3 separate regions of the Homo sapiens genome follow, and regions 1 and 3 are each reported to be linked to region 2. The links are microRNA targets in miRTarBase. Many come from high-throughput screens and were not tested one by one. Region 2 holds a microRNA gene; each other region holds the end of a gene's coding sequence.
Evidence for each region. The annotated mature microRNA hsa-miR-362-5p reads AAUCCUUGGAACCUAGGUGUGAGU and lies in region 2 at 1,376-1,399, opposite strand. An mRNA with a match to its seed (bases 2 to 7 or 8) in the 3' UTR can be bound and repressed. Matches are read on the target gene's strand: a 7mer-m8 pairs with bases 2 to 8, a 7mer-A1 pairs with bases 2 to 7 and ends in A, and an 8mer does both.

Region 1: miRTarBase lists BORCS5 as a target of hsa-miR-362-5p. Seed matches in the 3' UTR shown: 7mer-m8 at 2,813-2,819.
Region 3: miRTarBase lists EWSR1 as a target of hsa-miR-362-5p. The part of its 3' UTR that is shown has no 7-base or 8-base seed match.

The regions. Positions count from the first base shown.
Region 1 is chr12:12,465,185-12,468,184 of GRCh38, forward strand. BORCS5 (BLOC-1 related complex subunit 5) reads left to right here. Exons shown (of 4, transcript NM_058169.6): 4 at 362-3,000. The coding sequence ends at 592. Among named protein-coding and RNA genes, the nearest start is that of DUSP16, 96 kb to the right of the region's middle.
Region 2 is chrX:50,007,019-50,010,366 of GRCh38, reverse strand. It overlaps MIR362 (microRNA 362), which reads right to left and starts at 1,403; the gene lies at 1,339-1,403. All of the region lies in intron 3 of CLCN5 (chloride voltage-gated channel 5), which reads right to left. It overlaps MIR500A (microRNA 500a), which reads right to left and starts at 1,936; the gene lies at 1,853-1,936. It overlaps MIR501 (microRNA 501), which reads right to left and starts at 645; the gene lies at 562-645.
Region 3 is chr22:29,299,635-29,302,916 of GRCh38, reverse strand. EWSR1 (EWS RNA binding protein 1) reads right to left here. Exons shown (of 17, transcript NM_005243.4): 16 at 3,066-3,282; 17 at 2,396-2,795. The coding sequence ends at 2,756. Among named protein-coding and RNA genes, the nearest start is that of GAS2L1, 5.4 kb to the left of the region's middle.

The sequences.
Region 1 (3,000 bases), not on the chromosome of region 2:
ATTAGCAGCTCATACACGTGACAGAGCCAGATTCAGCCTTGGCCTGACTGATTTCCACATCCAGAATTCCCCTCATATAGGGAGATAGAAATCTCAGGATCTCAACAAGGTACAAATAACGCACATTCCCAGAACATAGAGCCAGGGACAGTCCCCTCTCAGTTCTCTTCTAAAGGTGGTTCTGGCACAACAGTTGATAAAGCTGTGTCCCTGAAGGGCTTTTTAGCCCTGGGTGCTTCCTGTAAAACTTGTCAGCTTCCACTGGATCTGCGGGACTGTGTCCCTCACAGGCTGGACACCCGGCCCTGCGGAGAGGACTTGATTAAACAAGGTATAATGTACTTCTCTTTCCCATCCACAGATGGATCTGTCTGTAGAAACTCTGTTCAGCTTCATGCAGGAGCGCCAGAAAAGATACGCCAAGTATGCCGAGCAGATCCAGAAAGTGAACGAGATGTCCGCCATCCTCCGCCGCATACAGATGGGCATCGACCAGACTGTGCCCCTGCTGGACAGGCTCAACAGCATGCTGCCCGAGGGCGAGCGGCTGGAGCCCTTCAGCATGAAGCCCGACCGCGAGCTCAGGCTGTAGCTGCTGCCCGGCCTGCCTGGGGCTGGGAGCCCCAGACACCGACACCCTGAGGACGTGTGGAGCTAAGGTCATATCATCTGACCAGGTCTGGAGGCTGGCGGGAGGCTCCCTGAAAGTGGGTGCGAAGGAGTCCGGCTGGCATGAAAATCTGACTTTGCCCAGCTCTTTTCCTTGATGCAGTTTCCCGGTGTGGAAGGAACCTAACCAGTTCTCGGTGATAACTGAAGCTGGAACGTGTGAATTATTAGGAATTCTTTGAAGAACTCTGCATTGAGAATTATTTTTATTTAGTTTTTTTTTTTTTTTAATTGAGAGTATATAGTCCAGTCCAGGTACCGGAATAAAAATATGGAGACAAGGGGAAAATATTTTACGAAGCTCTGTGTTCTCAACGCCCTCATGAACTTTTCAGTAGGCTGTCTGGTTTATGTGTGGTCAACTTGAAAAACTAATTGAATCTAGGTCTCTGTATTGTTCCTGTTTCTACCCTGACTGTTTCCGTCACACCAAGCCCTTATCTGGGGCGCGTCTTCCTGCCCAGGTGGAACACTGGCATTTTGTTGACTGTCAGGTTAGGTGTCCCTTAGTCGTCATCAGAAGCTGAAGCCTTCCTTTCCACACCCTCATCAGATTCATCTCCACTGATAACCGGTTTCCTTGATGCAGACATAGTTTAGCTTTCTTTGACTGCAGAGATGTCTCATTCCACAGACATTTCTTGAACCCATTTGATGTGTCCAATATTGTGCCAGGGATACAAATATGGCCGTATAGCCTCAGGCCTTCATTTCTGAAAAGAAAAAAGCTCAAAAAGCTGCTGAATTTCTCTGGGAGTTTAGGAAAGGAAGTTATTTGAGTAACAACAAAAGTGCTTAGTGTCGTACTTTACACATCATAGGTGTTCTAATGGAAGCAAGGACTGGAGAAGCAAAGAGTGGAATGTGAGGAGCAGACCTAGGCAGACACCTTGAGACTAAAAGTCAGAGCTGAAGGGAGTCGCTGGGGCCAGGACGGCATGCAGGCCTGTACCCTGTTCCCTAAGTTCCTGCAAGCGTCGGGAGGTGTGTTTTCAGATACCAGAAAGAGCCTTCAGTAGATTCACAAGATTAAAATTGATGCGCTTAATTTAATGTATCTTGGCTAAACTTGATCTGATTCTAATCTTGGTTTGAGACAGGGTCTTGTGCTGTTGCTCAGGCTGGAGTGCAGTGGCGCAATCATAGCACACTGACTCCTCAAACTCCCGGGCTCCGGGGATCCTCACGCCTCAGACTCCTGAGTAGCTGGGATTACAGGTGTGTGCCACCAAATCCAGCTAATTAAAAAAAATTAATTAATTTTACATTTTCAAATTCAAAAGAATAATACAATGAATATTCATATTTCTTTCACCTAGATTGACAAAAAGTGGTATATTTAAGACATCACCATCATTGTCTTTCTTCTGGAGTATACAGAACCTGGTTCTGAACACAGGGATATGTTTGTAGCTTCGAGGAATGAAGGGCTGTTTACAGAGCTACAAAAATAGCTTAGGTGCCATTATCCTCACTGCACTTAATACAGGTGACACATGAAAGCACAGAGTGGGTGGCAGTTCAAGCCTGCGAGGGCCGAGCCTTTCCACTGCTGCAGCTGTTAGTGGCTGGCACAGGGCAGGATGGCAGACCTAGTGCAGCACAAACAAACCACGCAGTCAGCCAGCTCTCCAGCCAACTGTGTCTACTTCTAAAGTAGAAGTTAGACAAAACATGGGGTTCACTTAGACTGGGGTCCTGAGTAGGTGATAGGCTACTTATTACTGGGTGGAAGCGGAGAAGTATGGCAGAAGAACAATAGGCAAATTCAATACTCCCGGAAAGAATTCTAGTTAGTTTAATATTTTGATGGCATGTTGTGGTTTCTGCAGTGTCGTGAACTTGGCTAAACTGAACTGTGTTCCCAGAATTCCCTTCCTTGTTTGTTTCTCTGGTGAGGGTTGGCCACGAGAGAGATTTGCATGAGGTTTGGAAGTGGAAGTAGAGCAACAGCCATGTGTATTCACTGGAAGTGGATGTAGGTCAGGCCCTGTTCCATCACGTGCACGTTACCATGGATCTCCTGCACTTGTGGTGTGGGCAGCCGCTGGGCCCACGGCTCCTCCCACTCCCGCAGAACTCTGCCTTTGGCTTTTCCAGACCCTGGGCCGGGTATGAGAACCAGCTTCTTGGTCTGCAGCCACAAGGATGAAGGTTTGGGGATGAGAGACCAGCACGGGCTCTGATGAGAGACAGGTGCAGGTCCCAGCTTGTGGCTTGCAGGTCTCAGTCGTACTTGCTCTCCCTCACCATCCTTTCCAACCGCCTGGCCTGTGGTCTGGTGAAGAAGAAACAGCCGAACCGAGACTTTCACCAGCCCCTCTAATTGCT
Region 2 (3,348 bases):
TGAGAGGCTGAGGTGGGAGGATCGCTTGAGCCCAGGTGGTTGAGGCTGCAGTGAACTGTGATGGTGCCAGTGCACTCCAGCCTGAGCAACAGAGCAATACTCCATCAAAAAAGAAAGAAAAGAAAAGAGAGAAGAAAAGAAAGGAAAGGAAAGGAAGGAAAGAAAGAAAAGAAAGAGAAAGAAAAAGAAAAGAAGGAAGGAAGGAAAGAAGGAAAAAACAAGAAACAAGTATCAATGTGACAGCAGGAATGAGAAGACTCACACTTATGGGTGGGTTAAGGTGGGAAGAGGGTAGATAAGAAGTTCCTATGTGGCCCACTCACCCTCAGTATATGCAGGGGCAATGAGTGGTGACAAAGTCCATTCTCCTCTCAGGCTATAATATCCAGGAAGGCAGGGGCGAAGTCTGCCTTGTTCATTTCTCTGTGTCCAATGCCCATCATGGTGCCCAATACATATTATTTGTGGAAGGAAAGAATGAATGAGGGTCAGAGAGCAGGCAGGCAAGCAGCAAGCAGCTGAGAGGTGACATACAGATCTTCTGTTCTCCACGCAGAGGGGGCTCACCCTCTCAGAATCCTTGCCCGGGTGCATTGCATTCAGAAAGCACTCTCACCCAGGGACAAAGGATTAGAGAGGAAGAGCAGAGCAGAAGACTCAGGCACCTGCACCCTGCATGTATATCTCCATATATATTTGACTTTCATGGTCCCATTCCTGCAAAGTATCTCTGTGTGCATTTGCTAAGACAGATGCCTCTCCTCAGGGATAGCATATGTATTCATCCCCCTGCACAAGGCCACATGGACATGCCCTCTCAGACAAAACCTCAGACTAGAATGAAAGATATGAGTGGCATCTTTTTCAGATCACACTTGAGGGTCTGCAGGTGCTGGATGTATTTGGGGCCTAGCAAGGAGGTTGGGACAAACTGTATGTGGGCACACATGTACATGCACATGTTGGAAGATGGTACAGAAAATTGGGATACTTCATTCTCTTCTGTTTCTCTGGTAAACTATAAGCTCACTGAGAGCAAAGACTGGCTGTGCAAGTCTCATCACCCAATGTGTGTTTCCCCATTACAGTATCTGACACATAGTAAGCTGGGAGTAAACAGAAAGCTCATGCTCTCAAAGAGGTGTAAGCTTGTCCAGGGCAATGATGAAGTTCATTCTCCCACAGGTGCCCTCTACAGAGCCCAGGGACCTTAGCTGTCTTATTTACCGTTGTATCTCCACCACCCAGTGCAGGATCTGGCACCGCATAGCAAACACAAACATGTGAAAGAAGGGGACAGGTTGTTGGTCCTTCTACATGTAGACAAGGCTCAGCCTCTTTGAATCCTTGAATAGGTGTGTTGCACTGAAATAGCACTCACACCTAGGTTCCAAGGATTCAAGAGGGGGAGCAGACAAGAAGGCTCTGACACCTGCCCTTTTTGTGTGTTTGTATGTGTGCATGTGTAGCTATAACCAAGTCTCACTCTCATGTATATACAGTGTCATTTACTAGGGACTTTACAGAAAGGCAGAGAATCTTTTCTCCTGCAGAGTTCCATGTGAGATCAGAGAAGATTCATGCTTTTGTGTATGTTTGTGGGTGACAGTGGTAATGAGAAGTCCACTCTGTGGCCCACCCACTCTCAGGGCATGTAGGTGTAATGGATGATGAGGAATTCCATTCTTCTTCCTCAACTGTAGCTCCATGAGGGTAGGGACCAAGCATGTCTTGTTAGCAACTGTATGCTCATTACTCAACTTAGTATCATATACAGAAAAGGTGGTCAATAAATACTTGTGGAATGGATGATAGGAGGACAGAAAGACGCTCTGTCCTACACGAAGATGAAGCTCTCGCTCTCAGAATCCTTGCCCAGGTGCATTGCATTCAGACAGCACTCTCACCCAGGTAGCAAGGATTAGAGAGGGGGAGCAGAACACAAAGCCCTGTGAATGTTCAGTGAGAGGGCTCATTCTTCTTCACACAAGGTACTTACTTGTCATGATATAGAAGTAAAGAGAACAGTTCTTGAGCTTTGCATTAAAGATGTCTAGTTAAACACACATTTTGTCTGTTCTCTCAGATAGTAACAACAAAAAAGTATAAACCTATAAAGAGACTGGGAGGAGAGAGGAGTGTGAAAGGGAGGAAAGAGAGAATGAATATAACGCCAAAGCTCATGATCCCGCAAATGCTTTGTGTGACTATGCAACAAGAAGGCAGTACAGTTTAGCACAGTTGTTCTCTAACATGCACCAGAATCATCTGAAGACCTGGGTAATATACAGGTTACAGAGGTTTCTGACTTGGTGAGTCTGGGGTGAGACCCAAGAATTTGCATTTCTAACAAGTTCTCAGGTGATACTGATGCTACTGGTCCAGGGACTACACTGGGAGAATCACTAATGTAGTGGAAAAACCAGGCACTTTGGTATCTACGAACCTTGGTTCAAATGCACGCTCTACCACATATTAGCCTAGAGAATCGACCTGATTTTCCCAAGGTCAAGTTAAACACTTTTGAAGAATGAGGACAATTTAAAGCCTACCTCTTAAATGGTGTCAAGAAAATGAAATAAAGTATAGTACCTGGCACACAGCCGTCAATATTTTTACCTCTTACTCTCTATTTTTATGTATATATGTGTTTGAATGAATGTGCATTTTTAAGGGGGATGGTGAAACTCCTGCATGCAAGGGACAGGTGAGAGAGAAGAGGTCCGAGTATCTGTGAGTGTGAGTGCCTGCACAAGGGGATACACAGATTCATCCTCTTAAATTCCTCACGTGTGAGTTGATGAGGTTCTCCTTCAATCTCCCTAGGTCAACAAAGTTCACGCCCCTTCACATAAGGGATATGAAGGAAAACATCAGAAGTTCCACTCTCTCTGTGTGTGTGTGTGTGTGTGTGTGTGTGTGTGTGACAGAGAGAGAGAGAGAGAGAGAGAGAGAGAGAGAGAGAGAGAAAGAGAGAGAGAGAGAGACAGAAAATGAGTAAAGATGGGGGCATCTGGCCCTGTGAGTATAATCAAAAAGGCTCCTGTCTCTCCTGTCCCTGTATGCTCACATGTCTGCATATGCTGGGCACCCAGCCACATGTGGGCCTCCCTTGCATGCTCATTCTCCTGTATGCCTTGCTTGTGCACATGTGCATATACGAGTATTTGTGTATCTGTGATTGTGAGAGAGAACATTAACAAGGAAGTGCATCTTCATTCAACAGCTACCTAAGGGAAGAATGCCGAGACAGCTCACTGCCCTTTCTGGGAGGGCAAAGAGAGTAGAGTTAGGGCAGGAAGGAACCACCCACTGCTTACCTGATCAGTGGGACTCCGTGTATACAGG
Region 3 (3,282 bases), not on the chromosome of region 2:
GGAGGGGACAGCACGAGGGCCAGCTGTTGTCCCTGTCACAGACTGCACAGTCCTCAGCCCCACAGCTGCTGGTACTGCTGTTGCTGCAGCCCTGTGCTCTTCCCCGTCGAGCAGGGGAGCCACTCCCTGTGGGCATAGATCAGTCTCCCCATGGACCCCGCCACCTTTGCCCAGGCCTGTGCCATGTGGCCTCGTGGGACCTCAAGTTTGTGTTGGCAACTTTTAGTCTAGGTGCTTTTGGGGAGTTTGACCAGGGTGTGGGTAGAGACTAGGCTTTTTCTCCACCTGCTCTGCTCTCTGCCCTGCCCACCTCCTTCATGCCCTGGCACCAGCCAGCTTCCTGCCGCCCTTTGAGACAGGCTTGGCATCCATGCTGCCTGAGGGAATCTGTGCCCAGAGCATCCAGAAGTTTCTTTGGGCTGAGAAAAATAGACCTGCCTGCTGTAAACATCTCTACCAGGGCTATTTAGTGCCAGTGACAAACCCCTCTCGGGCAGGGACATAAGGCTACTCCTGGGGAGCCTATGCAATGCCAGAGTCTGACAGATGCTTGTGCAGTAGCAGCTTCCAGAGCAGGCTGCTTGTCTTCCCTTAGTGCTGGCAGCATGCGGGTCATGTCAGAGCACCCATCCTTTTCAGAAGCAGGTGCCTGTATACAGTGGGTTGGTGGGAGGGTGAGCGTGCGGGGCCTGGAGGGCGACCACCCTTAGCTCAATTCAGGCCTCTCAATGGCAAGTCCTCCCTTGACCTCTCTCTTCCCATCTCAGCTGACGTGTGGCTGTCCTATGTTACCTGCCTTGAAGGTTATTAGGAATTAAACGCACAGAGGTACTTAGCGCAGTGCCTGGCACGACGCAGGGACCCAGTGATGCCCTAGTCGAGTTTGGGCCTCCTAGGTTATGTGTGCATCTTGGCTCTGACACACCAAGGCTGCGGTGAGAGCGTCCTCGGCCCCTTGAGGAACAGTGCTGGACTGGCGTGCAAGGTAGAGCAGGGCAGCTGGGGTCCCAGAGGTCTTTTGGGGCATGGCAAGCGTGCTTGGAGCCACCAAATGGTTTTGAGACTGGAGATGACCTCCCGTGTCAAGTTGGTTTGGGCCAAGTGTGGTGGCTTACGCCTGTAATCCTAGCACTTTGAGAGGTCAAGGTGGGATGATCACTTGAGCCCAAGTTGAGACCAGCCTGGGCAACAGTGAGACCTGGTCTCTACAAAAACATCAAAAAAATTAGCTGGGTGCTACACCTGTAGTCCCAGCTACTCAGCTCAGGAGGTGAAGCTGTGATTGCACCACTGTACTCCAGTCTTGGTGAGAGCAAGACCATCTCAAACAACAAAAAACCCCACAAACCTTGGTCTGGCTTCTGAGGAAGGGCTGGAGATACTGAGGGGAGAAGCAGGGAACCCAGTGAGGGGGCGTTATGGAGGTGGGGGCTGTGGGTGGATTTGCACCGTCCTGGATTTGCAAGAGAGCTAGGTTGGGGGCTGGGGTTTGAGAATGGGTCATGGATGACTCCAAGGTTTGGGGCAGGTGTGTGTTTACTGAACTGGGGTGTAGGCAGGACGGGACAAGAGCAAGCCCTGCTCTACACCCATCATGCACCCAAGCCGAGTTGGCCCTAGGGAGAAAGGGCTAAAGCCACAGTATGGAAAGGACAGCCAGGCAGTGTGGCGGCTCAGGGGAGCGCAATGCTAGCTTTGGGGCCTTCCTGCATTTAGGGATAGGAGAAAAAGGAAGCAATGAAGGAGATGGGAGAACAGAGAAGGAAAGACCATTGATTGGGCAACATTAGAGGTGGTTGGTGACTGAGAGCTGCTTGTTTTAGTGCAGGTGAAGAATGAAGTGGGTTCCAGAGAGGGAGGGGTGGACAAAGCTCTTTCCATGTGCTTCCTGTAGAAAGGGCCAGGAAGATGGTTTGATGGAGGGAAGGGGATGATGGCTGGTTAAGGGAGGGTTTTCCAAACGCAGGGAGTCAAACACATATTAGAACAGGAAATGACCAGGGAAAGAAACAGCAGAGGTGCACACAATGCATGCCCAGAAGTGCTGGGGATGAGAGGACCCGACCCAGTCCGCCTGAGAGGGATCGTCCCTCACCTGAGGGAGCAGCCCCTTAGATGCTCCTAGTGCCTGATCCGTGATCCCATGGAAGGCAAAGTTATTTCCAGTTCTTCCTGTGCCTCCCTTACCTGGATCTCCCCTTGAACCTTTGGACACTAGTGGGTCTCAGAGGCTGCATCAGGGCCAGAGTCTGTTTCCATGTCACAACCGCTTATTTCCCCTCACACAAACCCTGAACCAACCGTTTACCTGGAAGGCACCCCTCTCCTGGGTGGGGTGGGAGCATGCTCCCAGCAGACACACAGTGACTGTGGAACAGAGGCCGAGAAGGATGACTCTTTATAAACATTTGGAATTTTATTTAAAAAAAAAAAAAAAACATCACAACCATGAACATTGTTACAGTTAAGAGGCCCTCTTGGTTCTCCACAATGATACTGAGCATGCTCACAAGGGGTTCCCATTGTTAAAGTCTTAAACAACCATTTTTAAAAGAAGGAAGAAAAAAAAACTCCGCACACTACCATTTAACTTGTTTTAATGTTTCTTCACAAATGGTGAAAAATACTAAAGTACAGACAAGGAATAATCATAATGTTGTGGCCAACATTATAAATATGGAATTATAAATTTAAAACATTTTCTGGTTTAAAAAATAAATCTGGTAGTCAATGCAGCTCTGCGGGGTCTCTGCATCTAGTAGGGCCGATCTCTGCGCTCCTGACGGTGCTCGCCTCTGCAAGGTAAAGAGGGCCCTTCGGTTAGAATGGGAAGGGGTGAGGAAGCCCTTCCAGAGCCCCCAGGTGCCCCTTCCTGGCTCCTCCCAATCGGTTAGAATGGGAAGGGGTGAGGAAGCCCTTCCAGAGCCCCCAGGTGCCCCTTCCTGGCTCCTCCCAACCACTATCACAAGCTTCCTAGAGACATGAGGACTTGCGCCAACCAAGCTGGGAAGGGCTGTCCTCTTACTGTGCCTGGCGGCCCACAGCTGCTTTTCACCAGCACTTACTTATCCATTTTTCCAGGTCCTCCACGTCCTCCTCTTCTTCCTCCCATCTGTTCCATCAAAGGTCCAGGGGGCCCCCCAGGGCCACCTCGTCTTCCTCCACCAAAGCCACCTCGGTCCATGCCCCGGCCACCACGGAAGCCACCTCTGTCTCCACCACGGCCACCTCTGAACATTCCACCGGGACCACCACGATCCATGAGGCCACCTCTTCCTCCCC